Linked DNA regions of Homo sapiens. The protein of the gene in region 1 purifies or fractionates together with the protein of each later gene. This does not show direct contact. Each region holds a gene or a part of one and is shown in the gene's direction. Other genes may lie near its edges. The genes, in order: TECTB, UTP15, AGPAT5, PWP2, WDR3, DDX27 and IDH2.

Region 1 (3,389 bases):
TTTTCAGTGATCTGTTCATTCAACAAATATTTGAATTCTTGTTATGGCTCTGTCTTTTATTAACTGAGTGACCTTGGGCAATGACCTCACCCCTCCTCCATACCCTAGTTTCCTCTGTGAAATTGGGCTAATAATTGCCCCTATCTACATGGCTGTGGTATAGATATTTAATTACAGCTAAGGGCACTGAACAATGCCCAGCAAACAGCAAACACCCAGTCAGGGTCAGCCATGATTATGATGACTGTACTGGGAACTGGTCTTGTGGCTACTGCCGTGAACAAGACAGACAAGGCCCCTTCCCTTGCCAATATGTGTAGAGTATTTGGGGTTCAATGGGGGACGTGATTTAGAGAGCAGCCAGGGAAGCCCCTTAGAGGAAGAAACATTTCAGCTAAGACCCAAGATCTCACCTGAATGATAAGAAGGAAGCAACTACATGAGGAGATGGGGTAAGACAGTTCACTTATTAATAATCTCACAGACAGATTTTGCTCTCATCATTACAGGAGAATCATGTAAATCAACTTTTAAAATTCCAATCCTAGATTCTCATCGTTTTTAAGTTCTACACTGAAAGCCCTAGAGTACCATGCACCATCACTGATTTCTATTTGTCAGAGGTCCACAACCTAGGTTTATCTGTCAGGTTCTTTGTACTGATAAATGTGAGCTACAGAATCCCCAAGGGATGAACAAAATCGACTTTGTCTAAAATGTGTGGAATTTTATGAAGACCCCTGAGTTAACTCTTCTGTTGAGTTGGCTTTACCCTTGTAGAACTGTCTCTGAGTGCCATCTCCCTCCCCTTCTGGTCCACAGATGTTCTCCACCACCTCATCATGATGTTGGGGATTTGTGCCGTGTTATAGGAGTTAGCCAGGCAGCTGCCGCTCCTCCACCCACAATAGTCCTCAGCGAATGACAAACACATTTATTGTGCTGCCAAAAAGAACAAACAGAAGACCACATTGTTGGGGGGCAGAGAATAGCACTTTGCCAAATATGCACTCCAATAATTTCTGTGAATTTGGTGATGCCTTTTTCTTTCTAAGAAAAACTTAGGCTACTTCCCGTGGCCCTTAGATCTCACAGTCCTTCTACAGCTGGGGGAGGAGCCTCCTTTCTCCATACTCAAGTCAGGGCTGCAGTAAATTCCTTTGAAAGCTATTTTAACTTTAAAAGGTTAGCAGACCCAACCAAGTACTGCTGAGCATTTTGAAGAGAATGTAGGGTGCAACTACAAAGTCAACACTAAATGCACAACGCACATTAATAGCTGACTTTGCCAAAAAGGAGCTTTGTCATTGAGGCAGTGTCATTCTACTTAAGGACCAGAGCTGAGCCCCCACGCAGGGAGTTCCAATCTTTCAACTGATGACATGGGAGATGATGTGGGATTCAGAGTGGAATACAATAGTTTTGCTCAAACCTAATGATATAAAGGAAATAGATTCTTGAAAGCCCCTAGTACTGACCTAATTTGTTTTTATTATACCATTTGTTAAATATATAAACATGATATAGGTAGAAACTCCTTGTTTTTATAGCAGATGTATACTTCTAAAGTCAAAAGAAAATTACAAATTAAATAGGAATATTTACAAAAAGAATAATCACAAGAAGAATACAACTCACATTAATTTAACCTAATAACACGGCATTGCCCCAGTGAAACTGCTGCTGGAAACATGACTATAAAGTGACTCCAATGACACAAGTGCTGTGAGTTTGGTGACCCAATCCTACAGATAAATGCCTTGTGACACTCAATGCTATTTTTTCTCTATTTGCTCTACTAAGAAGTTTTCATTTATAAGAAATGGTCTGATCTCATTTAGCTTTTACTTAAACATCGAAGCTTACATCTGTTTTTGTCTCATTCACTTACAATCATTAGAATGAAGCTAACACAAAATCAGAAACACAAATGCAAATGCAGCCAATGAAAGCATGCAGTAGCACATCTTGGTAACTGGCCACCCCAGTGATCCAGAATATGCCCATATAAATGATTTACATTGTCAACAAAATACAAACTGAATGAACCAATTCTGGTAGAGAATTGGCTGGATTGTGATAGGAAAAGGCAGAGTTCTAAGTCCTTAGTTATGTAAAGACTTAATTAGTAGGCTTATAATTTGAAAACAACACATGGGTTTGTCTCTCTGTATTTAAGGTATTTGAGAAGTTTTGCAATTTGCAGTTTGATGATTCTTTTACAACTTGTGTTAGTGAACTCAGAGATTAAACTAGTTATGAAATCTCCGGATACATGAAGTGTATGTTTGTTTAGTAATAGGCTAAAGTAAAATGACTCAATTTGGTCTAGACTTGGTCTCTAAGCTGGAGTTCCAACGAGTTTAGGATCTCTTCTTTCTGTAAATTCAGAGTTTTTATAGTCAGGAAAAACAGAAGACATATTTTATTGGTTCTAGTAGAAAACTCTTAAATAGCATACTCATAGCCATGTTCAAATCCTTTGCTGTCAGAATAAACCAATGTTGTATTAGTTTTGCTGTATTTCATCATTGTGTTTTATGATCTTGTATCTCTACCTGGCGCTATGGAATAAATAAAATGCCTTAAAATAAATAACCTATGACTACAGTTTACAGTGTTAATATATCATGTTGACAGCTAATTCCCCAATTCTCCCAGGGGTTTCTACAACTAGAGCTTCGTAGACTCGCATATATGCCACAGACTTTTTTTTTTTTTTTTTTTTTTTGAGATGGAGTCTCGCTCTGTCACCACCCAGGCTGGAGTGCAGTGGCGTGATCTCAGCTCACTGCAAGCTCTGCCTCCCAGGTTCACACCATTCTCCTGTCTCAGCCTCCCAAGTAGCTGGGACTACAGGTGCCCGCCACCACACCCAGCTAATTTTTTGTATTTTTAGTAGAGATGGGGTTTCACCATGTTAGCCAGGATGGTCTCAATCTCCTGATCTCGTGATCTACCTGCCTCAGCCTCCCAAAGTGCTGGAATTACAGGCATGAGCCACTGCACCCGGCTTGCCACAGACTTCTAATTATTCTATCCTACCTTTACATTTAAAAAACTCCCAGTATTGGGTTTCTGATGCAAGGAGGTAAAGCCAATCTGTATGATTAACATTTTGGGGAAAAGGTCTTTTGGGTCATCCCTGCCTATAGAGCCCGAATGTCTCTCACCAGTGACTGGATGTGTTTTGACTTGACATTAACTAACAACCTCATGATGTTTGATTACCCTTCTTGTCTCATAACTTCTTCTTTGAGAAAATAAGACAAGGTACTCTCAAAACAATCTCTTGTAAATTCTCAGTAGTTCTAAACACAATTAGAAACATTAAGAAAAAGAAGAAAACTAATTCTCCCCCAGGTATCCTTAGCTGACATAGAACAAAT
Region 2 (4,319 bases), on another chromosome or scaffold:
CAACTCCTGTTCCCCAGTCAAGATTTCAGTCTCCCCTTCCATCCCTTTTTCTGTCTTTCCATATTAGACTTTTTTGCTTGATATTTTGCTGCAGATCTACATTATTCACTTCCACTGCTATATAGAATTTCTTTTAAAAAATGATTTTATTATAATTTTCTTAAAATGGACTCTTTCAGTTATACATTTATTTTGCTGGAATTTATGTACACTTCACAAATATTATTTAATGGTCATAACAGTTCTGTGAGGTAGGAACTGTTATTACCAATGACCCAGGAAGTGGTGCATCCAGGATTTTACCAGGCAGCCTGGCCTGGACTCCCTCACTCAGCCTCCATGCTTTGTGGAGTGTCCAGAGAAGAATGCTTTTCAGATCTTTAATATGTTGAATCTGTGGGCAGAATATCCAACTAACGATGATTTCTTTTTATAGGAGGTCGTTATGTTAAAGTCTGGGACATGTTAAAAGGAGGACAATTGCTAGTATCTTTGAAAAATCATCACAAAACCGTGACATGTTTATGTCTAAGCAGCTCTGGACAGAGGTTACTCTCTGGCTCACTGGATAGGTTGGCATTTTAATTTTTTTGTATATTATTATTAGTGTACACCTGTTTACTGCTTGAGGAAATGAGTTATTTCAGCAATATTTGTGATAAGTATACAGATAATGATTTCCAGGAGAAAAAAACCTGTTGAGTTGAAAATAGTTTTGACCTTTTGTTTACATATAGCTACTTCTTTTCTTTTCTTTTTTTTTGAGACAGAGTCTCACTCTGTCACCTAGGCTGGAGTGCAGTGGTGCAATCTCGGCTCGCTGCAACCTCCGCCTCCCAGGTTCAAGTGGTTCTCCTGCCTCAGCCTCCTGAGTAGCTGGGATAACAGGCACGCGCCACAATGCCCGGCTAAGTTTTTTATTTTTAGTAGAGACGGAGTTTCACCATGTTGGTCAGGCAGGTCTTGAACTCCTGACCTCGTGATCCGCCCACCTCAGCCTCCCAAAGTGCTGGGATTACAGGCGTGAGCCACCACACCCGGCCACCCATAGCTACTTATTTTCTCCTTTGACACAATTTGTTTTAACTTGTATACTTAAACAACATTATTGAACCATTTGAATGATAATCTTTCAAATAATGTTATTCTATAAACCATCTTTTAAAATCATTATTGTACATTCATATATTTTGAAGTTTTTTTTTTTTTTTTTGAGACAGAGTCTTGTTCTGTTGCCCAGGCTGGTGTGCAGTGGCACAATCTGGGCTTACTGCAACCTCTGTCTCCCAGGTTCAAGCGATTCTCGTGACCCAGCCTCCCAAGTAGCTGGGATTACAGGTGTGCAGCACCATGCCTGGCTAATTTTTGTATTTTTAGTAGAGACGGGGTTTCGCCATATTGCCCAGACTGGTCTCGAACTTCTGGCCTCGTGTGGTCTGCCCACCACGCCCTCCCAAAGTGCTGGGATTACAGGTGTGAGCCACTGTGCCTGGCCTGAAAAGTTTTTTAAAAATTAGATAAATTAATTTTTTTTTTTTTTTTGAGATGACATCTCGCTCTGTTGCCCAGGCTGGAGTGCAGTGGTGGGATCTCAGCTCACTGCAACCTCTGCTTCCCGGGTTCAAGCGATTCTGCCTCAGCTTCCTGAGTGGCTGGGATTATAGGCGCTTGCCACCTTGCCCGGCTAATTTTTGTATTTTTAGTAGAGACAGAGTTTCGCCGTGATGGCCAGGCTGGTCTGGAACTTCTGACTTCAGGTGATCCACTCACCTTGGCCTCCCAAAGTGCTGGGATTACAGGCATGAGCCACCACGCCTGACCTAAAAGTTAGATAGCACATTTTATTTAGCCTAATATCTAATGTAAAAATAAAATATATATTACATATAAAATATAATTTCAGTATGTAATCTATGTCAAAATTATTAAGATACTAGAAATAAATTAAGCATCTAAACATGTGCACTATGATACAATAATCATATTTTAGGTTGGTACAGTGGCTTACACCTGTAATCCCAGTGCTTTGGGAGGCTGAGGTGGGAGGATCACTTGAGGCCAGGAGTTTGAGACCAGCCTAGGGAATATAGTGAGACCCCATCTCTACAAAAAATTAAAAAAATTAGCTGGCCACAGTGGTACACACCTTTAATCATAGCTACTAGGGAGGCTGAGGCAGGAGAAGCACTTAAGCCGGAGTTTGAGGTTGCAGTGAGCTGTGATAGTACCACTGTACTCTATCCTGGGTTACAGTGATACCCTGTCTCTAAAAAAAAAAAGATAATATTTTATAAAAATTACTGTCTCAGTTTTTAAATTAAAATTAGATAAAATAAAAAATTTAGTTTCTCATTTTCACTAGCCACATTTCAAGTGGTCAGTAGCCATGTGCAGCTAGAAGTATGGCACAGTTCTAGAATTTACATGATTTATTATTAATTTTTTTTTTTTTTGAGACAGGGTTTTGCTCTGTCGCCCAGGCTGGAGGGCAGTGGCATGATCTTGGCTGACTGCAACCTCCACCTCCTGGCTTCGAGCGATCCCCTCGCCTCAGCTTCCTCAGTAGCTGGGACCACCGGCACGCGCCACTGTACCTGACTCATTTTTGTATTTTTGTTGAGATGGGGTTTTGCCATGTTGCCGAGGCTGGTCTCAAACTCCTGAGTTCAACAGATCCTCCCACCTCAGCCTCCCAAAGTGCTGGATTACTGGCGTGAGCCACCGTGCCCGGCTTACATGATCTATTTTTTATTATTTTATTTCCATATTTTCATTTTTTTCTGCTCTTATGAAAAACTTTAGTTTTCAGCATGTTAATTAAAAAGTATACAGTCATCTCTTGGTAACTGAGGAGAATTGGTTGTGGATGCCCAAGTCCCTTATTTAAAATGGCATATTTGCATATAACCTACACACATCCACTGTATACTTTAAATCATGGCTTGCTTATTTGTAATACCTAATACAATGCAAATGCTATGTAAATAGTTGTTACACTGTATTTTAAAATTCTGTATTGTTTATATATTTATGGATATTTTCAATCCATGGTTGGTTGAATCTGCAGATGTGGAACCTGCCATAAGAAGGATTGACTGTACATATTTTAAAAGCTAGAAAATATTTTTAATACAAAGGAATTTTTTATGTAAATACATGGCAAGTTTACACATGTTACTGAAATCATGTTACTCGGCAATTTGGGACTTGATTCTTAGGTATGTTCCTAAAAGCTAAGTGTAAATTGGCTCTATTTGTGGTGGTTTCAACCAAGAGTGATTTTTGTTCCTCAAGGAACGTTTGACAATATCTTGAGAAAGTATTGTTTTTTATCACAACTCATGGTACTTACCATATAGGGGATAGAGGCCAGGAAGGCTGCTAAACATCCTACAATGCACAGAACAACCCCCACAAAAAAGAATTCTGTGCCCCAAAATGACAGTAATTCTGAGGTTGAGAATCCCTGATCTTTGGCTTCATGTGTACTTTCTTTCTTTCTTTTTTTTTTTTTAATTTATTTTTTTAGAGACAGGGTTTCTTCAAGTTGCCCAGGCTGGTCTTGAACTCCTGGGCTCAAACAATCTGCTGTCCTTGGCCTCCCAGAGTGCTGGGATTACAGGTGTGAGCCATCACACTTGGCTTTGTGATGTGCTTTCATTGATAATTTTTTCTTTTTTTTTTTTTAAGATGGAGTTTCACTCTTGTTGCCCAGGCTGGAGTGCAATGGCGCGGTCTCGGCTCACCGCACCTTCTGCCTCCTGGGTTCATGTGATTCTCCTGCTTCAGCTCCCAAGTAGCCGAGATTACAGGCATGTGCCACCATGCCCGGCTGATTTTGTATTTTTAGTAGAGACAGGGTTTCTCCATGTTGGTCAGGCTGCTCTTTAACTCCCGACCTCAGGTGATCTGCCCACCTCGGCCTCCAAAAGTGCTGGGATTACTACAGGTGTGAGCCACCGCACCCGGCTAATACCTTTTCTTTACTCCCAAGTTTGATCTTCAGATGACAGTGGCTCATGGTCTGTCCTTCTGTTTTTTTTTTTTCCTTTTTTTCTTTTTAAATTTTTGAAACAGAGTCTTACTCTGTGGCCCAGGCTGGAGGGCAGTGGCACGATTTCGGCTCACTGCAACCTCTGCCTCCCAGGTTGAAGCAATTCTCATGCCTCAGCCTCCTGAGTAGCTGGGATTACAGGTGTGTGTCACCACACCTGGCTAGTTTTTATTATTTTTGGTAGACATCGGGTTATGCCGTGTTGGCCAGGCTGGTCTTGAACTCCTGGCCTCAAGTGATCTGCCCACCTTGGCCTCCCGAAGTG
Region 3 (4,319 bases), on another chromosome or scaffold:
GTAAAAAGGAGGAGAAGCTGCAGCGGGTTATTAGCCATTTGTGAGTCAGGTCACTGTAAAACTTTATCAAAAGTTTAAAAGACAAAAAGCATCCTCATAAAATGCCTTAAAACCACCTGTTGAAATATTACATATACAATTCATGTATACTAATCATAGAGCATATTAAAGATATTTTAGAAGACTAGAAACTTCTATTAAACCAAGTTTCTGGATGTTTCCGTATTCATCCTTATTTTCCAGGGACCTGCATAACTTTTCCAGCGTGTAATAGCTACCTGATTGATATTTTTTGAATTGAAATACTGAAGTGACTAAAATCTAAACTTTTTCCATTCTGGCCATAGGATGCTTATAGAATTTTATGAGTCACCAGATCCAGAAAGAAGAAAAAGATTTCCTGGGAAAAGTGTTAATTCCAAATTAAGTATCAAGAAGACTTTACCATCAATGTTGATCTTAAGTGGTTTGACTGCAGGCATGCTTATGACCGATGCTGGAAGGAAGCTGTATGTGAACACCTGGATATATGGAACCCTACTTGGCTGCCTGTGGGTTACTATTAAAGCATAGACAAGTAGCTGTCTCCAGACAGTGGGATGTGCTACATTGTCTATTTTTGGCGGCTGCACATGACATCAAATTGTTTCCTGAATTTATTAAGGAGTGTAAATAAAGCCTTGTTGATTGAAGATTGGATAATAGAATTTGTGACGAAAGCTGATATGCAATGGTCTTGGGCAAACATACCTGGTTGTACAACTTTAGCATCGGGGCTGCTGGAAGGGTAAAAGCTAAATGGAGTTTCTCCTGCTCTGTCCATTTCCTATGAACTAATGACAACTTGAGAAGGCTGGGAGGATTGTGTATTTTGCAAGTCAGATGGCTGCATTTTTGAGCATTAATTTGCAGCGTATTTCACTTTTTCTGTTATTTTCAATTTATTACAACTTGACAGCTCCAAGCTCTTATTACTAAAGTATTTAGTATCTTGCAGCTAGTTAATATTTCATCTTTTGCTTATTTCTACAAGTCAGTGAAATAAATTGTATTTAGGAAGTGTCAGGATGTTCAAAGGAAAGGGTAAAAAGTGTTCATGGGGAAAAAGCTCTGTTTAGCACATGATTTTATTGTATTGCGTTATTAGCTGATTTTACTCATTTTATATTTGCAAAATAAATTTCTAATATTTATTGAAATTGCTTAATTTGCACACCCTGTACACACAGAAAATGGTATAAAATATGAGAACGAAGTTTAAAATTGTGACTCTGATTCATTATAGCAGAACTTTAAATTTCCCAGCTTTTTGAAGATTTAAGCTACACTATTAGTACTTCCCTTTGTCTGTGCCATAAGTGCTTGAAAACGTTAAGGTTTTCTGTTTTGTTTTGTTTTTTTAATATCAAAAGAGTCGGTGTGAACCTTGGTTGGACCCCAAGTTCACAAGATTTTTAAGGTGATGAGAGCCTGCAGACATTCTGCCTAGATTTACTAGCGTGTGCCTTTTGCCTGCTTCTCTTTGATTTCACAGAATATTCATTCAGAAGTCGCGTTTCTGTAGTGTGGTGGATTCCCACTGGGCTCTGGTCCTTCCCTTGGATCCCGTCAGTGGTGCTGCTCAGCGGCTTGCACGCAGACTTGCTAGGAAGAAATGCAGAGCCAGCCTGTGCTGCCCACTTTCAGAGTTGAACTCTTTAAGCCCTTGTGAGTGGGCTTCACCAGCTACTGCAGAGGCATTTTGCATTTGTCTGTGTCAAGAAGTTCACCTTCTCAAGCCAGTGAAATACAGACTTAATTTGTCATGACTGAACGAATTTGTTTATTTCCCATTAGGTTTAGTGGAGCTACACATTAATATGTATCGCCTTAGAGCAAGAGCTGTGTTCCAGGAACCAGATCACGATTTTTAGCCATGGAACAATATATCCCATGGGAGAAGACCTTTCAGTGTGAACTGTTCTATTTTTGTGTTATAATTTAAACTTCGATTTCCTCATAGTCCTTTAAGTTGACATTTCTGCTTACTGCTACTGGATTTTTGCTGCAGAAATATATCAGTGGCCCACATTAAACATACCAGTTGGATCATGATAAGCAAAATGAAAGAAATAATGATTAAGGGAAAATTAAGTGACTGTGTTACACTGCTTCTCCCATGCCAGAGAATAAACTCTTTCAAGCATCATCTTTGAAGAGTCGTGTGGTGTGAATTGGTTTGTGTACATTAGAATGTATGCACACATCCATGGACACTCAGGATATAGTTGGCCTAATAATCGGGGCATGGGTAAAACTTATGAAAATTTCCTCATGCTGAATTGTAATTTTCTCTTACCTGTAAAGTAAAATTTAGATCAATTCCATGTCTTTGTTAAGTACAGGGATTTAATATATTTTGAATATAATGGGTATGTTCTAAATTTGAACTTTGAGAGGCAATACTGTTGGAATTATGTGGATTCTAACTCATTTTAACAAGGTAGCCTGACCTGCATAAGATCACTTGAATGTTAGGTTTCATAGAACTATACTAATCTTCTCACAAAAGGTCTATAAAATACAGTCGTTGAAAAAAATTTTGTATCAAAATGTTTGGAAAATTAGAAGCTTCTCCTTAACCTGTATTGATACTGACTTGAATTATTTTCTAAAATTAAGAGCCGTATACCTACCTGTAAGTCTTTTCACATATCATTTAAACTTTTGTTTGTATTATTACTGATTTACAGCTTAGTTATTAATTTTTCTTTATAAGAATGCCGTCGATGTGCATGCTTTTATGTTTTTCAGAAAAGGGTGTGTTTGGATGAAAGTAAAAAAAAAAATAAAATCTTTCACTGTCTCTAATGGCTGTGCTGTTTAACATTTTTTGACCCTAAAATTCACCAACAGTCTCCCAGTACATAAAATAGGCTTAATGACTGGCCCTGCATTCTTCACAATATTTTTCCCTAAGCTTTGAGCAAAGTTTTAAAAAAATACACTAAAATAATCAAAACTGTTAAGCAGTATATTAGTTTGGTTATATAAATTCATCTGCAATTTATAAGATGCATGGCCGATGTTAATTTGCTTGGCAATTCTGTAATCATTAAGTGATCTCAGTGAAACATGTCAAATGCCTTAAATTAACTAAGTTGGTGAATAAAAGTGCCGATCTGGCTAACTCTTACACCATACATACTGATAGTTTTTCATATGTTTCATTTCCATGTGATTTTTAAAATTTAGAGTGGCAACAATTTTGCTTAATATGGGTTACATAAGCTTTATTTTTTCCTTTGTTCATAATTATATTCTTTGAATAGGTCTGTGTCAATCAAGTGATCTAACTAGACTGATCATAGATAGAAGGAAATAAGGCCAAGTTCAAGACCAGCCTGGGCAACATATCGAGAACCTGTCTACAAAAAAATTAAAAAAAATTAGCCAGGCATGGTGGCGTACACTGAGTAGTTTGTCCCAGCTACTCGGGAGGGTGAGGTGGGAGGATCGCTTCAGCCCAGGAGGTTGAGATTGCAGTGAGCCATGGACATACCACTGCACTACAGCCTAGGTAACAGCACGAGACCCCAACTCTTAGAAAATGAAAAGGAAATATAGAAATATAAAATTTGCTTATTATAGACACACAGTAACTCCCAGATATGTACCACAAAAAATGTGAAAAGAGAGAGAAATGTCTACCAAAGCAGTATTTTGTGTGTATAATTGCAAGCGCATAGTAAAATAATTTTAACCTTAATTTGTTTTTAGTAGTGTTTAGATTGAAGATTGAGTGAAATATTTTCTTGGCAGATATTCCGTATCTGGTGGAAAGCTACAATGCAATGTCGTTGTAGTTTTGCATGGCTTGCTTTATAAACAAGATTTTTTCTCCCTCCTTTTGGGCCAGTTTTCATTACGAGTAACTCACACTTTTTGATTAAAGAACTTGAAATTACGTTATCACTTAGTATAATTGACATTATATAGAGACTATGTAACATGCAATCATTAGAATCAAAATTAGTACTTTGGTCAAAATATTTACAACATTCACATACTTGTCAAATATTCATGTAATTAACTGAATTTAAAACCTTCAACTATTATGAAGTGCTCGTCTGTACAATCGCTAATTTACTCAGTTTAGAGTAGCTACAACTCTTCGATACTATCATCAATATTTGACATCTTTTCCAATTTGTGTATGAAAAGTAAATCTATTCCTGTAGCAACTGGGGAGTCATATATGAGGTCAAAGACATATACCTTGTTATTATAATATGTATACTATAATAATAGCTGGTTATCCTGAGCAGGGGAAAAGGTTA
Region 4 (4,319 bases), on another chromosome or scaffold:
CCTTTTGTGAAAAAGACATTGATTCTCAGGAAGCGGAAGCATCTAAGGGTGGTGCTGGCTCAGAGCGGAACCAGGTGATGGCACCATTGGACATTGTGGGTTTTAAAAGTCTCGCGTGAGTTGAGGCAGCGAGCCTTGGCGAAAGTTGCTGAGGCTGGTGTTTGCTTCCTGGAGGGCTGGTATAGGATCTCCTCTATTTCCTAAGGTTAGTTTTTATTTTATTTATTTTTATTTTTATTTTTATTTTTGATTTTTGACACGGTCTCGCTCTTGTCACCCAGGCTAGAGTACAGGAGTGCAATCATGGCTCACTGCAGCCTCCAACCCCTGGGCTCAAGTGATCCTCCCACATCAGCCTCCTGAGTAGCTGGGACTACAGGCATGTGCCACCGCACCCTGTTAATTTTATTTTTTGTAGAAACAGGGTCTTGGTATATTGTCCAAGCTTGTCTTGAACTCCTGGACTCAAGCAATCTTCCCAACTCAGCCTCCCAAAGTGCTGAGATAACAGGCGGGAGCCACCATGCAGGCCTAAAGTTGGTTTTTAGGAGCCATACGCTGAGGTTTCCGTGGTGGCCACCGTAAGTCCATGTCTCCTCTCCACCCAGGGCCTTCACCGCCCTGTGCTACTCTGCAGACGGCCACAGCATCCTGGCGGGAGGCATGTCCAAGTTCGTGTGCATCTACCACGTCCGTGAGCAGATTCTCATGAAGAGGTTCGAGATCTCTTGCAACCTGTCTTTGGACGCCATGGAGGTGAGCCGCCAGCGCGGGGCCGGATGGATGTTGCTTCCAATGCAGGTGGAATGCGTCGGGCTCCTGCGTTCTGCACTCCTGGCTCCATGGGGCCTTGGGCACAGTTGTGGTGCTTGTCCTGTATCTAAGTGCACGGGCCCCTCACCTGCCCCAGCAGAGTCCGGCCGTGAAGCCAGCACCTGCCTCAGCTGTGTGTGGAGCCACGGTCCCCAACCCTTTTGGCATTTGGGACCGGTTTCGTGGAAGGCAATTTTTCCACAGACAGGGTTGGGGGGATTGATTTTGGGATGAAACTGTTTCACCTCAGATCAAGATCACCAGGCATTAGATTCTCAGAAGGAGGGTGCAACCTAGATCCCTCACGTGTCGTTCACAATAGGGTTCGCACTCCTGTGAGAATCTAATGCTGCCACTGATCTGTCAGGAGGCGGAGCTCAGGTGGTGATGCGAGCAATGGGGAGCGGCTGTAAATTCAGATGAAGCTTCACTCATTCACCTGCCCACCACTCACCTCCTGCCGTGCAGCCTGTTTCCTAACAGACCATGGGCCAGTACCAGGGGTTGGGAACCACTGCTGTGGATGACCCTGCCGAGGCTGGTTGCTAGGAGGCTGGAGCTGTGAGGGGCAGTGCCCAGCACACGCTGGCTCAGGAGACACGGACATCTGTCAGGGAAGGAGTGAACGAAGAGGGTGCTGGTAGGCCCTGCCCGATGGCTTCCTGCCCGGGGTCCTGTGTACAAGGCTCTGCCTTCACTGTCCCCACTGGTGCCTGCCCTTCCCCCTCAGCACAGCCCTCGGCTCAGGTCCCACTCACATGCTGGCTCCTGCAGGACCTCAGAATGAGAGTGAGGAAGCCCTGGTAGCCTCTAAGCAGGGGTGTGGCTGCTGGGTTCACCTGTCCACGCCCCATCGGGGCAGAAGCCCACTGTCCCCTAAATGTTTCTGGGGGAAAGTGTCCTTGGCATTTTCACAAGGGAGTAGACGGCCATCCTCGCTGTGAGCCCCAGCCTTTGTGATGGTGGCAGCAATGCCAGCATGTAGACCTCAGTCCATCCCCCTCCGCAGCCTCCGCACCTGCCCTGCTCCACAGCTTCCACACCCACCCTGTCTGCAGCTAGCTCTGCAGGAAGAGTCCCTGGGGCACTGCAGGGCTCTCTCCCCGTCCTTGTTCTAGACAGGGCTGAGGCTTGTCTGGTGTTGGGGTCAAAGAGCAAGGGTAGGAGACGAGGGCCAGGCGGCCAGGCCATCAGAAGCAAGGCGTCCACTGCTTTTGCTGTTCTAGGAATTTTTGAACCGAAGAAAAATGACAGAGTTTGGCAACCTGGCACTAATTGATCAGGATGCTGGGCAGGAGGATGGAGTCGCGATACCACTGCCAGGCGTCAGGAAAGGTGAGCAGAGGTTCCTCCCGCATCTGCCCACCACTCACCGGTCCTGGGTGACCACGCATTCATGCCCCTGGTTGGGGCTGCAGTGTGTGGAAATAACAGTTACTACATGGTGACATTTGCTGGACACTGGGGGTGTCAAAGGCCCAGTGGGTTGGTGCTGGTGCCGTCAGCCCCTGGGCAGGAGAAGCTGCCCATGTGTTGCTACACGTGGCCTCCCTGCCCTGGCGGGACCCGTCCATTTGCTCTTGGGACTGGGTGCCCCGTCTGCTGCACAGCACACGGAGCATTCTGGCGTGAGGCCATGTGCGCCGCACAGAGAGCCAGGTGCTCTAGAAGATCTGGGTCCCAGGTAGACCATCCTGATGGGACACTCGCCAGCCAGAAACCCTGAGTGCTTCCATATGCAGGCCCAGGGTACCGTGTTGAGCACAGCAGACCCACTCCTGGGCTGGGCTGGGGCCCTTTTCTGGGTTGGACACACAGTCTGCTGGCCGGGCTGGCTTTTTTGAGCATCTGCCCCATGGGCTGGGCCATCTGTTTGGCAGCTCACCCGGAACAGCCTCCGCGGCCCCAGCACGGGCCCACCTGCCGCAGCTGCAGCGAGGGAAGGGCTGCTTCTGCCTCCGCTTTGTGCAGGACCCAATGAGTAGAGGCTGCTGCTCTTGATGGGGCTCCCACAGCACCCCCCAGCCAGCCGGGAGACCGCAGGATGACTTGCTTCGTGGGGAGAGCAGCCTGGATATGCTGTCCAGTGATCATTAACGGTTCTTTTTTCCCCAGGTGACATGAGTTCTCGGCACTTCAAACCTGAGATCAGGGTGACCTCACTCCGCTTCTCTCCCACTGGTGAGCACTGAGCCATGGGCTTTTGGTGCCGGTGGGCACTGGGGCATCTGTGCCATAGCAAGGCTGGCCACCATGGAGCTGTCTGCAGGCTCTGGGCTGTGCCCTGTGCCCCTGGGTAAGAACATGGCCCTGCAAACCCTGCAGGCCACAAGATGGCTGTTGTCCCTGAGGATGGATGGCTGTCACGGTGCCAACCTCAGATGCACTGAGCTTTGAAACATGGCAGGCCTGGTATGCCCTTGCTCTAGCAGCTCCCCGAGTGCCCTGGACGTGCTGCCTGGGGGCGGCTCTGCCATCACGGAGAGCCCGTCTCCTGCGCACTGCCCCCATCCTCTCGCAGTGGGGAGGAGGGTCTGTGCCACAGGCCTGTGGAGCCTGGCGGTGCACATGGTCCCCACACAGAGGAGCCAGGAGCAGGGCTATTGGCAAGCGTGCTCCAGCCTAGACTGAGTGTCAGAGCCAGGGGCAGAGAGGCCCATGTGAGCCAGGGGTCTGTGCCCTCGGGCCCAAGGGCCAAATCTGGCTGGCCACCTGCTTTGGTCACTGATGTTTTACTGGGACATTTTACTGGGCGTTTTTTTGTTGGCGGATCCTTCTGGCTGTCTCTAGTGATCCGTGCAGCACTGAGTAGGTGCAGCAGAGACCACAGGGCCTGCGGAGCTGAAGACGCCTGAGCTAGACAGAAGACTTGGCTGGCTCCCGGCGTCAAGAGAGGAGGACGCATGCGTGTACATATTTGCTTATATGTGCATCCCTGGGAGAGTAACTTCTGGGATGATCCATTCATTCCTTCCCAGGGGAGTAGTGGGGTGGGGGCTAGAGGCAGACGTCCCGGTTCCTCCTGATTTTTGCACTTTGTCCCAGGGGAATGTACTTAATACTGTTTCTTTAAAAAAAAAAAAAAAGAAAAAAAATGTTGGGAGGAATGAGCTTAAATTTTTAGGAAAGCACTGCTTAATTTCCCAGGGCGCTGCTGGGCGGCCACCACCACGGAGGGACTCCTCATCTACTCCCTGGACACCCGCGTGCTCTTTGACCCGTTTGAGCTGGACACCAGCGTCACCCCCGGGAGGGTGCGCGAGGCACTGCGCCAGCAGGACTTCACCAGGGCCATCCTCATGGCCCTCCGGCTCAACGAGAGCAAACTGGTGCAGGAGGCCCTGGAGGCGGTGCCCAGGGGCGAGAGTGAGTTGGGGCTTCGGTGTCGGGCGCCGGGGTCATCCTCTCTTCCCCTGGTTTGAGTTGGTGGCAGAATAAGCATGATTTTTTCTCCTTTTGCAGTTGAAGTGGTCACCTCCTCCCTTCCTGAACTGTATGTGGAGAAA
Region 5 (4,319 bases), on another chromosome or scaffold:
GGGAGGATGTTAGTTTATTACATATTTTGTTTACTGAAGTTTTACTTTATTTTTTAAAAATTATGAAGAAGAAAATTAAAATCATGACCCTGAGATAACTACCATTAACATTTTGGTGATCATCCTTTCATGTGTCTTTTTATGGGCGCATATGTAATTGTGTTTTAATTAATGATAAAATATATTAAGGGTAATAATTAAATATATTAAGTACCTAATATCATGCTTGGCAGACAGAAGCATTCAGTAAAGACAAACTGATCAAGTCCTTATTCCTAGGTGCTAGTCAGATTGGGAGACAACCATGTGGAAATAAGCAGATATGGATTTGGATTTAGTTTCTGCCCTTTAGAAATAGGTAATTTGGGCCGGGCGCAGTGGCTCACACCTGTAATCCCAGCACTTTGGGAGGCCGAGGCAGGCGGATCACAAGGTCAGGAGATCGAGACCATCCTGGCTAACACGGTGAAACCCTGTCTCTACTAAAAATACAAAAAATTAGGTGGGTGTGGTGGCGGGCGCCTGTAGTCCCAGCTACTCGGGAGGCTGAGGCAGGAGAATGGCGTGAACCCGGGAGGTGGAGCTTGCAGTGAGCCGAGATAGTACCACTGCACTCCAGCCTGGGTGACAGAGCAAGACTCCATCTCAAAAAAAAAAAAAAAAAAAAATGAGTAATTTGGAGCAAGTCACATAACTGCTCATAGTGTGTTCCTTTATATTATGGGATGACGACACTTGCTTTTTGACAGCAGCTTTCGTACCAGATGGACTGGTACCAGCCTCTGGCACTTACTAGCTATGTGACCTTAACCCTGTTAGCCTTGGTGTTCTCGTGGAAAATGACGTTACTGACCCATTTCACAGAGATGAAGTATACAAAACTCTTAGCAGAGAAACTAGCCTGCAGCGAATAGCTAATCGATAATAGAGCTGGTAGCAGACATAGCAGTAGTGATTGTACCAGTAGTGAGAATAAAATGGAACAAGGTCTATGGAGTGTTTTGAAAAGTGCTTTGCAAGTATTTGTCATTATTATTCCCATAAAACAAAGCCATATGTACATGAGTTTTATTACAAAATGTATGGATCACAATGGATATTTCTTGCTTCAACAAAAAAATGTAGGCTGGAGAGATTTTAGGAACAATGCCAGGAAACAGTATTCACATCTCAAAACTTTCCTTCCTTTTTCACTCTTTCAACAAATGTCCATCTCTGATTTGCCGTCGGGAAAGTAGTTTTTTAATTGCTTAAGACTACCCATGTGGCTAAAATGCAATTGTCGGCTTACTGGCTGTGCTAGGCAATTAATGTACATTATCTCATTTAATCCTGACAACATCTTTGAAACATTGGTGATATAAATTTCATTTTACAGATGAAAAACTAGGTTCATGGGGATGAATTTACCAATGGGCACAAAGCAGACCTGGTACTCAAGTCTTTTAGCTTATGCTGTCTGTACCACCTTGTGCAGAAGCTCATCGTAAAACAGGCTTTGCCTCTGTGTGTGTTACATGCTGACACCATGACTATGGCATATACAGACCTCTAAATAGGAATTTTAGAGTGATTGCTTTCTATGCCATTATGATTTTTTTTTAAATTCACTGCCTTCCTTAGTGCTGTAGGTAGATCCCATTTCTTATTGTCAATGTATTGCAGAGGAGGAAACCAAAAGCAGATGGAAAAGAGGTGGTTGCTTAAGCCAATAACTATAGAGGATCATCCGCTTAAAGGATTGGCTAAACTTTAAAGGCTTTTAGGTTTGCATTTGCTATTTTGTTTATTCTGATTTGCCTATGGTCATGATATTTTCCTTGTGAAGTTGTGTAACCAATGAAAGTAATGCATCCAGTACTGCATGGTGGTATTATTCCATACTTCTACACTATGGTAGCCCTGCCAAGGTTAACCCAGCACATCAGTAGGGGATTTAATAGTATTTAATCAGGTAGGAAATACAGAACATGGAATGTGGGATCCATTTCCTAAGCAATGGATCACATTTTTGCAGCTTGGTTATGAAGTCTTTTCTAAATTGTGCAGTCATGAATCATGGAGGTTGTACGTATGTTCATTGGAGCTGTGCTCATTTTGTGTCTTCCCAGACAGGGAAGCTGCAGCTTTATGACTTGGCTTCAGGGAATCTGCTGGAGACAATAGATGCACATGATGGAGCTTTGTGGTCCATGTCCCTCTCTCCAGATCAGGTAACTAAACCAGATTTTAAAGCCCTGGAGTTCAGCCCTGTGGCTACCCTGATTTCTCTCAGGGTTTCTTTAAAGAAAGCCTGAGGTTTTTTTTTTTTTTTGGTCTAATCTTTAGTGTTTGTATATGATGCCTTCTTATAAATGACCACCTGTCATTATGAAATGAAATCTTGTTTGGCTACTTTTGCTTATCAGCAGCGTGACATCAAATTGCTTACCATCATGATTTTTTTGCCAATGTTTTGTAATACTTCTTAAGGGGGAATATTCTCTTGGGCAACATGATGCAGAGAACTGAATAGACTTTGCTGCTCCCCTTTTTTCCTCAAACAAACATCTATGACTGTATAAGCTAAGTAGTTTTAGCAAGTATGTCAGCCCTTACAAGTCAATAAATATGTGCTCACCTTCAGAGCAGTTCCTGGCAAAAGTATGCTTATTCTAATAATGGTGCTGTTGCTTAGAAAATCTTGAGATTTTTTTTTTTGACAACACCTTAAGAAATTTTGGCCCATTTATTTAAATATTCTCAATGATAGACAATTTTCATCCGTTGAAAGTAGAACTTAGTTTTGGAAAAAATCACTGAAGTTTAGAGTGTTTAATACCACTTGGGGTCCAAACGAAACAGCTGTGAGTCTAAAATAGTAATAAATCTTGCATTTGTAGAGTGTTCTATCTTTTCCATAAACTGTGTGGTCTTTTTTTCAACAAAACTAGGGATTTACGGAAAGGTTGTTTCCTGTGTTATAAATCTATGAGGGACAGACACTTGAGATCCAGTGTTCTATGTACTTTACACTAACACTGCCATGTAATGAGACTAATTTTCTTGATAACGGAAAACAGCTTCAAAACTATTTTAAGTAGGGACATTGCAGGACTAAATTTATATCCTTCTGAGGTGAATACTTTAAACAAATCTAGATTATCCATTCTATGTATATTTTTCAAACTGGTTTACTGAGAGTTTTTGTTTCTTCTTGATGCTAGATAATAGTATAACTAGAACTTTTCATTAGTTATTATTTCTGCCTATGTTAGTCGATGGTAGGAATTTTCACATAAGGTTTGTGGCAGCAGACCCAAAAGATCAGTGAAAGGGGCTAGGGAGAACCACGTTTTTCTTAATTTTTATCCCATGACGTTAAATAAAAATACTTTCTTAGACTTTTAAAATGTATCTTCATAGCAAAGTTTTTATGCTAAAATAGTTTTTAATTGAAATTTCATTTGATTTTCAGCGTGGCTTTGTGACAGGTGGTGCAGATAAATCTGTCAAATTCTGGGATTTTGAGTTAGTGAAAGATGAAAATAGTACCCAAAAGAGGTGAGTAGACATTTTTTGTGTCCATTTTTTGGAGTGAAAATGGGGAGCTATGGAATGGCCTTTTGACGTCTTATATCATTTGTTGTGCTCTAAAGAGTTAGGATTTGTCTGAATTTGTATACTCATTTATTTTTTCTTGATGTTTTTTGTGGTGCTAGACTTTCTGTGAAGCAAACCCGAACTTTGCAACTAGATGAAGATGTTCTGTGTGTCAGTTACTCTCCCAATCAAAAGCTATTGGCTGTGTCTTTGCTGGACTGTACTGTGAAAATTTTCTACGTTGATACTTTAAAGGTACAGTGGTTATGCCTGCGGATATTTTCCCTTTCTGACTGACTGACCTTAAGAATTTGGGTTGAGGCTATAAAGAAGTGGCCTTGACTGTGCCCAGCGATAGTACATTTCTAAAAATGTGTGTGTGAATCAAAGCAATGTAACTATGCTAGGGAAGCTAGCATTTTAAAATAATTCTATGGTTCATGAATTTTGTTTAAAGCAAGTTATATTTCATATGTTCAAAAAATCTTGTGGACAGAAAATTCTGTCATACTAAGTAGTTATAAGAGCATTGCTAGGTGTCCTGGGCAGTGATTTCACACTTGGCTATATATTAGGATCATCTAGGTTGCTTTTAAAAATATAGATTACTGAGCCCTATACCCAGAGAGTTGATAGGACCAGGTTGGGCCTGGGAAATTTTTTTGTGAAACAAATGCCCTGGAATCTTTTCAGTGAGGAGATACAGAGATCTGACTGAGGCAGTAAGCTTCTGGGGG
Region 6 (4,319 bases), on another chromosome or scaffold:
CGGGTTCACGCCATTCTCCTGCCTCAGCCTCCCCAGCAGCTGGGACTACAGGCACACGCTGCCACGCCCTGCTAATTTTTTGTATTTTTAGTAGAGATGGGGTTTCACCGTGTTAGCCAGGATGGTCTCGATCTCCTGACCTCGTGATCCGCCCGCCTCAGCCTCCCAAAGTGCTGGGACTACAGGCGTGAGCCACCGCGCCCGGCCGAGAACTCTCTTAAGCAATGAGTTCCATCGTGTCCCTCCTCTTCTTCTCTGAGTCCTTCAGTACTTCCCAGTCTCACTCTTCTTAGAAGCCTGAGTCCTTATATTGACCTACAAGGCTCTGCCCCTTCTGGCCCTCTCTGACGACACCTCCTGGCACTCGTTCTGCTCTGGCCACACTGGCCTCCTTGCTGGCCCTCAAATAGGTTAGGCCTCCTCTTCCTCAGGGCCCTTGCACTTTCTGTTCCCTCTGCCTGGAAAACTCTTCCAGAAATCTTTTGGGGTGCTCTCTAGCTTCCTTCAGGGTTCAACTCAGTATCCCTTGCTCAGTGAGACCTTCCCTGGCAGCCCTACCGTGAATAGCACTCCCCCTGCTGCCCGTCTGGCCGCTGCATTGTTTTCCGCAGCATCTCTCCATATGACATGTGTTTGTTTTTTGGTCTGTTTCTACCAGACTGTAAGATTCCTGAGGGCAGGGTTTTTATTTCTTTTATTTACTGCTGTGTCCTCAGTGTCTAGAGCACCACCTCACACATAGTAGGCGTTCAGTGAATGTTTGTGGAACGAATGATTGGTGGGGATTGGTGTGGTCCCCACTTGTCTGGAAACCTGCCCTGTTTGTGTTGTGCTGAGACTTCCCCCGCTCAACCCTGTCTGACCCAGTTCTTTTTTCCTCAGGCCATTACAGCCATGGGCTTCAAGCAGCCCACCCCGATCCAGAAGGCGTGCATACCTGTGGGTCTATTGGGGAAGGACATCTGTGCCTGTGCAGCCACTGGGACAGGTGAAAAGGATAGGGACCCAGGGTGGGCAGAAGGGTGTTACGGCCAGGGCTGGGCTCTAGGTTGACTTACCAAAGGCTGGTTTGCTAAATAAATATTCTTGGTTTTTTGAACTATTTCATTTTTATTTTTTATTTTGTAGAGATAGGGGTCTCACTTTGTTGTCCAGGCTGGTCTTGAATTCCTAGGTTCAGGTTCAAGCGATCGATTTTCCCATCTTGGCCTCCCAAAGTTCTGGGATTACAGGCATGAGCCACTGTGCCTGGCCATAAAATTTTTGTAACACAAAAAAGATATACTGGTGCAATTGAGAGAGTAAAGGACTTTTTTTTTTTTTTTTTTTTTTTGAGACGGAGTCTCGCTCTGTCGCCCAGGCTGGAGTGCAGTGGCGGGATCTCGGCTCACTGCAAGCTCCGCCTCCCGGGTTCACGCCATTCTCCTGCCTCAGCCTCCCAAGTAGCTGGGACTACAGGCGCCCGCCACTACGCCCGGCTAATTTTTTGTATTTTTAGTAGAGACGGGGTTTCACCGTTTTAGCCGGGATGGTCTTGATCTCCTGACCTCGTGATCCGCCCGCCTTGGCCTCCCAAAGTGCTGGGATTACAGGCGTGAGCCACCGCGCCCGGCCGAGAGTAAAGGACTTTTAAATTTTTAACCACTTTATTTTGAAGTATTTGTAGATCAGTGGCAAGTTGCAAAAATAGTGCATAGGGTCTCTCGAATCCTTCATCAATGGTGACATCCCACATAACTGTAGGACAAAATCAAAACCAGGAAATTGGCACTGATACAACAGTGTTTCCTAGACTGCAGAGCTTACTCAGTTTACTGAAGGATTAATTTTTTGTTTTGAGATGGAGTCTCACTCTGTCACCCAGGCTGGAGTGCGGTGGCGCAATCTCGGCTCACTGCAACCTCTGCCTCCTGTGTTCAGGTGATTCTCCTGCCTCAGCCTCCCCAGTAGCTGGGTTTACAGGTGCCCGCCACCACACCCGGCTGATTTTTGTATTTTTAGTAGAGAGAGGGTTTCACCATGTTGGCCAGGCTGGTCTCGAATTCCTGACCTCAAGTGATACACCTGCCTCAGCCTCTCAAGAGTGCTGGGATTTACAGGTGTGAGCCACCGTGCCTGGCATACTGAAGGATTAATTTTGTAAGATAAACAGTGCATGAGAGGATGTCCGGTCTAGTAGTGGGCCACAAGTTTCAAAGGGTCTGATGAAGGTCATTTTCATTTAATCCTCTTGGGGTATCCCTGATCTCTGTGACCATGGCCTCCTGGCCCTGCCATATCAGAGGAGGAAATTTTTTTTTTTTTTTTTTTTGAGACAGAGTCTCGCTCTGTTGCCCAGGCTGGAGTGCAGTGGCGCAATCTTGGCTCACTGCAACCTCCGCCTCCCGGGTTCAAGCGATTCTCCTGCCTCAGCCTCCTGAGTAGCTGGGATTACAGATACACGCCACCATGCCCGGCTAATTTTTGTATTTTTAGTAGAGACAGGGTTTTACTATCTTGGCCAGGCTGGTCTTGAACCCCTGACCTCATGATCCACCTGCCTCAGCCTCCCAAAGTGCTGGGATTACAGGCATGAGCCACTGTGCCTGGCTGTATTTTTTCTTTTTTTTTTTGAGACAGAGTTTTGCTGTTGTCACCCAGGCTAGAGTGCAGTGGTGCGTTCTCAGCTCACTGCAACCTCTGCCTTCAAGTGAATCTCCTTCCTCAGCCTCCTGAGTAGCTGGGATTACAGGTGCCCACCACCAAGCCTGGCTAATTTTTATATATTTAGTAGAGACAGGATTTCACCATATTGGCCAGGCTGGTCTCGAACTCCTGACCTCAGGTGATTCGCCTGCCTTGGCCTCACAAAGTGCTGGGATTACAGGCTCCCGCCACCATGCCCAGCTAAGTTTTTTGTATTTTTAGTAGAATTGGGGCTTCACTATGTTGGCCAGGCTGGTCTTGAACTCCTGACCTCAGGTGATCCGCCTGCCTCGGCGTCCCAAAGTGCTGGGATTACATATGTGAGCCTGACCATGTGATTTGAAAGCAGAAAAAATATTCTATGAAAAATAAGTTCCTTTATTTTCCCCAACCAGACGTAGTTTTTCTGTGCTCTGGTGAAAACCTAACCCTGGAGGGAGCTAAACTTCTTCTCATTGCTTCCTTGCTGTCCCTCCCTCCAGGTAAAACTGCCGCCTTTGCCCTGCCTGTTTTGGAGCGTCTGATTTATAAACCCCGCCAGGCTCCAGTCACCCGCGTGCTGGTGCTAGTGCCCACCCGAGAGCTGGGCATCCAGGTGCACTCTGTCACCAGACAGCTGGCCCAGTTCTGCAACATCACCACCTGCCTGGCTGTGGGTGAGTTTCTGGCCAAGGGCTGCCAGCCCCTGAGAGACTGTGGTGGGGTGGAGGATGGATGTGCCCCGCCATCTGTTGGTGTTGGTGACAGGTGCCAGGAGAGGCCTTTGTGTTGATTGAATCCACTTAAAAACTGGAAGACTTTTTTTTTTTTTTTTTTTTTTGAGACGGAGGAGTCTCGCTCTGTCGCCCAGGCTGGAGTGCAGTGGCGCAATCTTGGCTCACTGCAAGCTCCGCCTCCCGGGTTCACGCCATTCTCCTGCCTCAGCCTCCCCAGTAGCTGGGACTACCGCCACCACGCCTGGCTAATTTTTTGTATTTTTAGTAGAGACAGGTTTTCACCGTGTTAGCCAGGATAGTCTCGATCTCCTGACCTCGTGATCCGCCTGCCTTGGCCTCCCAAAGTGCTGGAATTACAGGCATGAGCCACCGCACCCAGCCGACATGTTTTCATAGTGCTTTAGGTGGGTGGGATTTGATTGAGACTTAACCAACCTTCACAAATGAAACCTGAAAACTATGAACATTTTTTTCGTGGTACTGAACAAATTTGGGGTATAATTTCTGCTCTGTGAGAATAATGAATCAAATATTACTTTGGGCAGCGTTTTTCCAATGAAGTTATATGATAGTGTTATCTAGCCTGCATTTTGCCCTCCTTGTGCTATTGGAAGTCAGAAGTGATCTTTGTCTCCCTGTAACAGACACCTCATCACTTTCCTCAGCTGCTTCTCTTAGTCCTTGAATGTTTCAGGCATTCTCTTTTTTTTTTTTTTTTGAGAGGAAGTCTCACTCTGTTGCCCAGGTGGGAATGCAATGGCATGATCTTGGCTCACTGCAACCTCCACCTCCTGGGTTCAAGTGATTCTCCCACTGCTTTCCAAGTAGCTGGAATTATAGGTGTGCACCACCATGCACAGCTAATTTATGTATTTTTAATAGAGATGGGGTTTCGCCATGTTGGGTAGGCTGGTCTCG
Region 7 (4,319 bases), on another chromosome or scaffold:
CTTTTCCTGATAGTAGCTCTCTTAGTGGTTGTGAGGGGATAGTGGGGTGATATCTCATTATGGTTTTGATTTGCATTTCCCTGATGATTAGTGATGTTGAGCATCTTTTCATGTGCTTGTTGGCCATTTGTATATCATCTTTGGACTTGAAATGTCTATTTAAGTCTTTTGTCCATTATATTTATTTATTTATTTTGAGATGGAGTCTTCCTGTTACCCAGGCTGGAGTGCAGTGGCATGATCTCTGCTCACTGCAACCTCCACCTCCTGGGTTCAAGCAATTCTCCTGCCTCAGCCTCCCAAATAGCTGGGACTACAGGTGTGTGTCACCACACCAGGCTAATTTTTTTTCTATTTTTAGTAGACACAGAGTTTCACCATTGTGGCCAGGCTGGTCTCGAACTCCTGACCTCAAGTGATCTGCCCTCTTCAGCCTTCCAAAGTGCTGGGATTACAGGCATGAGCCACGGTGCCCAGCCAGTCTTCTGTCCATTTTAACGTTGAGTTATTTGTTTTATTGTTGAGATTTACTGATTTTTAAAACTTGGTCACCAATTAAGATTTTTTTAAAAAACCAGTACCTGGAACAAGCAGAACAAGTCTCTGCTGGCCTTGGCTCATGTTGCTGTTCTCAGTTCCCCTGGGATGTTTGCTTCCAGGGAGGCCTGGGCACTCCTGACTTTGGTGACAGCCCTGCTTGCTCTCTCTCTGTTACCTGTAGGTTTCCCCTTCCACATTCACTGCCTCCGGGCAGGCACTGTTGTGTTTTAGGCATTTCAGTATCCCAGTGGGGTACTGGATAAGTGCTTAGTTAGCACCTGCCGGTGAGTAAATAATCAGGTCCTGTGGTCTCTGAGGGTTTGACACATCAGGTCTTTGATCTTGACCTTGAACTCTCCTAGCCATGCCTGCCTGAAGCCCAACCGTGGAGCCCAGGCTGAGGCTGAAACCTGAAGAACTGGCCCCAAGTGAGTCTCTCCTTAGGGCTCCTGATTATGATAGTTCATTTTTTTTTTTTTTTAACAAATTTGATTAGCTGTCCTCAAATTAACTCATAGGAGATGCTCCCCAGAACTAAACTAGCTCTGCAACAGCTCAACAGACTTTCCGCAGGTTCTGCAGCTCTTTCCACTCAAGCTTCAGAAAAAAGTGAAGGAATATTGTAGATTGGGTTCAAAATCCCCATCGCGTCTTGGGAAAGGCAGTAGAGCCAGCAGCCAGCCACCTTTTGTTCTCTAGGGAATGGAATAGTCCAAGGCTGTGTTTGTGTTCTGCTTCTCTACATCTGACCCACGGGTCTTCCAGAGGCTGCATTTGGGTCAGGGACCTGGGCTCTATCTTGCCTCTGATGCAGACCACACTCTCTGAGTCTCATTATTCCCCCTAAATGATCTCTAAGATTATTTTTAGATTAAAAAAAAAAAACAAACTCTTTGCATATCTTTGGAAAGTCAGTTGTTTGAGGTCTGTTAGGCTTTAATCACTTTTGTTTTAAATGTGCCGAGGTGGTTTCTAGGCCTGCTTTTCACAGGTATTCTGTCCCTTGTCAGTTCTTCCCACCCAGTTTTTTTTGTTTGTTTGTTTGTTTTTTTGAGATGGAGTCTCGTTCTGTTGCCCAGGCTGGAGTGCAGTGCCGTGATCTTGGCTTACTGCAACCTCCACCTCCCGGGTTCAAGCGATTCTCCTGCCTCAGCCTCCTCGGTAGCTGGGATTATAGGCACGTGCCACCATGCCTAATTTTTCTATTTTTAGTAGAGATGGGGTTTCACCATGTTGGCCAGGCTGGTCTTGAACTCCTTACCTTGAGTGATCCACCTGCCTCAGCCTCCCAAAGTGCTAGGATTACAGGCATGAGCCATTACACCCAGCCCCAACCCAGTGTTTTCAAATAATCATTCTCTTCCCTTCACCTGATTTGCTGTGTCTAATCTAGAGTGGAGCTGAAGACACATCACCACCTCTCTAAGGACTGTGTGTAACACAAGAGTAATTGGGCTGTAAGTGAGGCTGAGGAGTGCTGCTTTGAGGAAAGGGCACAGCTCTCAGCTGAGCTGGTGAGATTTCCCTGTGACTGAAGTTTTATTAGATCTTGTTCCCTGCTCTGCATTTGCTGCTTCTTCCCAGGCTGTGGGCAGAGGAGCAGGCTGGTGCCCCGGTGCCCCTATCTGCTGCAGGCTGAGGTTCAACAAGCCTTGTCCAAGGCAGCTGTACTGATTCATTGTTAGGTGGCCAGTTCCTGAGTTTTCTTTGAAATTCACTTCCCAGACTGTTGGGTATTCCTGCGAGTCAGACTCTCCTTCAGTAGCGTCCCCTGCCCCCTACCCTCCACTGGTCTCCCTGGACCTCTGATCAGCCCCTCATTGAGTCCTTTGATGCTTCTCTGGTAGGACTGACCCACCTGCGTCGGCTGGGATCAAGGGTTCTGAGTTCCATTCGCAGGTGCTGTAAGCCTGTCCTTCCTGTTGAATAGGGTCAGAGTCCTCGTGACTCTGCTGTTTTCAAGCTCTGTAACCTTGGGCAGTAAGCTGTTAACCTCTCTGAGCCTCAGTTTCCCACACTTAAAATGGAGATAATGGCCAGGCGTGGTGGCTCACGCCTGTAATCCCAGCACTTTGGGAGGCCAAAGTGGGTGGATCACCTGAGGCTAGGAGTTCGAGACCAGCCTGGCCAACATGGCAAAACCCCGTCTCTACTAAAAATACAAAAATTAGCCGGGCCTGGTGGCGTGTGCCTGTAATCCCAGCTACTCAGGAAGCTGAGACAGCAGAATCGCTTGAACCCGGGAGGCAGAGGTTGCAGTGAGCCGAGATCACGCCATTGCATTCCAGCCTGGGTGACAGACCAAAGACTCTGTCTCAAAAAATAAATAAATAAATAAATAAATTAATTAATTAAATAAAATGGAGGTAATGATACCTCCTTGGGGTTGTTTTTGGGATTAAATGGAATCACATTGTACAGCATTGGTACACTGTAAGGCACATAGTAGGCACTCAATACCTATCTATACTATTTCCTTTATCACCACAAGTTAGTTGAGGGCTCTTGGGTTGCACGCAACAGACAAAGTTAGTGACTGGTTAACTTGGAGAGGATTTTATTATGAGCTACACAGCGTAGCTCATAGAATTGCAGGGAAAACTATAAAGAACTAAGTCTTGGACAAAAGTAATATCTTGGCATGGGCCTGTAGCCCCAGCTACTAAGGAGGCTGAGGTGCAAGGATTGCTTGAGCCCCGGAGTCTGAGCCTGGCTTGGGCAACAGAGAGAGATAAAGAGACCCTGACTCTAAACAATAAGTAAATACATAAAAGAGGACCCAGGCCCTCCTTAGGAACTGGATGGCAGGAGCCCCTGGACAACCTCTTACTGATTTGGTGCTGGATGAGGCAGCCGCAGCTAGCCAGTGTTCTTTGTGTTGATCTCCTCTGCCTTCATATTCCAGGGGGAGAGGGTCTGACAGGCCAGACTGGCCCCCACCCTCTTGGCCACTGGTGGGCTGGGCATGTTTTTGGGTAGTTCTACCTAGCCAGATTAAAGTGGGGGTGGGGTGGGGAGTCCAGCCAGCCTGGGCAACAGGGCAAGACTCCATCTCTACAAAAAAATTTTAAAATTAGGCTGGCACGGTGGCTCACGCCTGTAATCCCAGCACTTTGCGGGGGTCAAGGCAGGTGGATCACTTGAGGTCAGGAGTTTGAGACCAGCCTGGCCAACATGGTGAAACCCTGTCTCTACTAAAAATACAAAAAATTAGCCAGGTGTTGTGGTGCACACCTGAAATCCCCGCTACTTGGGAGGCTGAGGCCCGAGAATCACTTGAACTCGGGAGGCGGAGGTTGCAGTGGGCTGAGATCATGCCACTGCACTCCCACCCTGGGGGACAATAGCGAAACTTCGTCTCAGAAAAAAAAAAAATTAAAAATAGCTGGGTGTGGTGGCATGCGCCTGTAGTCCCAGCTACTTGGGAGGCTGAGGTCAGAGGATCACTTGAAGCCAGGAAGTCAATGCTGCAGTAAGCTATGATGGCATCAGTGCATTCCAGCCTGACCAATGGAACAGGACCCTGCCAAGAAAGAGAGAGAGAAAGGGAGGAAGGAACGAAAGGAAGGAAGGAAGGAAAGAAAGGAAAGGAAGGAAAGAAAGGAAAGGAAGTAAGTAAGGATGGATGGATCCAGGTGCTCTAAACCAGCAGTTCCCAAAGTTTTTGGCACCAGGGGCCAGTTTCATGGAAGACAATTTTTCCACGGGTGGCAGGGTGGTGGGCAGCGGGGATGGTTTTGGGATGAGTCAAGTGCATTACATTTATTGTGCACTTTATT

The links.
Region 2: the proteins of TECTB (region 1) and UTP15 purify together in Homo sapiens (affinity purification with mass spectrometry; one large-scale study listed by BioGRID and IntAct). This does not show direct contact.
Region 3: the proteins of TECTB (region 1) and AGPAT5 purify together in Homo sapiens (affinity purification with mass spectrometry; one large-scale study listed by BioGRID and IntAct). This does not show direct contact.
Region 4: the proteins of TECTB (region 1) and PWP2 purify together in Homo sapiens (affinity purification with mass spectrometry; one large-scale study listed by BioGRID and IntAct). This does not show direct contact.
Region 5: the proteins of TECTB (region 1) and WDR3 purify together in Homo sapiens (affinity purification with mass spectrometry; one large-scale study listed by BioGRID and IntAct). This does not show direct contact.
Region 6: the proteins of TECTB (region 1) and DDX27 purify together in Homo sapiens (affinity purification with mass spectrometry; one large-scale study listed by BioGRID and IntAct). This does not show direct contact.
Region 7: the proteins of TECTB (region 1) and IDH2 purify together in Homo sapiens (affinity purification with mass spectrometry; one large-scale study listed by BioGRID and IntAct). This does not show direct contact.

The regions. Positions count from the first base shown.
Region 1 is NC_000010.11:112,302,441-112,305,829, forward strand, and holds the end of TECTB (beta-tectorin precursor), read left to right. Parts: intron 1-822; coding exon 823-872; 3' UTR 873-2,598; downstream 2,599-3,389. UniProt on the Homo sapiens protein: One of the major non-collagenous components of the tectorial membrane. The tectorial membrane is an extracellular matrix of the inner ear that covers the neuroepithelium of the cochlea and contacts the stereocilia bundles of specialized sensory hair cells.
Region 2 is NC_000005.10:73,572,053-73,576,371, forward strand, and holds part of UTP15 (U3 small nucleolar RNA-associated protein 15 homolog), read left to right. Parts: intron 1-436; coding exon 437-572; intron 573-4,319. UniProt on the Homo sapiens protein: Ribosome biogenesis factor. Involved in nucleolar processing of pre-18S ribosomal RNA. Required for optimal pre-ribosomal RNA transcription by RNA polymerase I.
Region 3 is NC_000008.11:6,756,816-6,761,134, forward strand, and holds part of AGPAT5 (1-acyl-sn-glycerol-3-phosphate acyltransferase epsilon), read left to right. Parts: intron 1-347; coding exon 348-573; 3' UTR 574-4,319. UniProt on the Homo sapiens protein: Converts 1-acyl-sn-glycerol-3-phosphate (lysophosphatidic acid or LPA) into 1,2-diacyl-sn-glycerol-3-phosphate (phosphatidic acid or PA) by incorporating an acyl moiety at the sn-2 position of the glycerol backbone.
Region 4 is NC_000021.9:44,123,972-44,128,290, forward strand, and holds part of PWP2 (periodic tryptophan protein 2 homolog), read left to right. Parts: intron 1-608; coding exon 609-756; intron 757-2,039; coding exon 2,040-2,148; intron 2,149-2,928; coding exon 2,929-2,994; intron 2,995-3,960; coding exon 3,961-4,179; intron 4,180-4,275; coding exon 4,276-4,319. UniProt on the Homo sapiens protein: Part of the small subunit (SSU) processome, first precursor of the small eukaryotic ribosomal subunit.
Region 5 is NC_000001.11:117,946,294-117,950,612, forward strand, and holds part of WDR3 (WD repeat-containing protein 3), read left to right. Parts: intron 1-2,111; coding exon 2,112-2,213; intron 2,214-3,457; coding exon 3,458-3,543; intron 3,544-3,701; coding exon 3,702-3,837; intron 3,838-4,319. UniProt on the Homo sapiens protein: Part of the small subunit (SSU) processome, first precursor of the small eukaryotic ribosomal subunit.
Region 6 is NC_000020.11:49,225,548-49,229,866, forward strand, and holds part of DDX27 (probable ATP-dependent RNA helicase DDX27), read left to right. Parts: intron 1-882; coding exon 883-988; intron 989-3,167; coding exon 3,168-3,341; intron 3,342-4,319. UniProt on the Homo sapiens protein: Probable ATP-dependent RNA helicase. Component of the nucleolar ribosomal RNA (rRNA) processing machinery that regulates 3' end formation of ribosomal 47S rRNA.
Region 7 is NC_000015.10:90,092,175-90,096,493, reverse strand, and holds part of IDH2 (isocitrate dehydrogenase [NADP], mitochondrial isoform 1 precursor), read left to right. Parts: intron 1-4,319. UniProt on the Homo sapiens protein: Plays a role in intermediary metabolism and energy production. It may tightly associate or interact with the pyruvate dehydrogenase complex.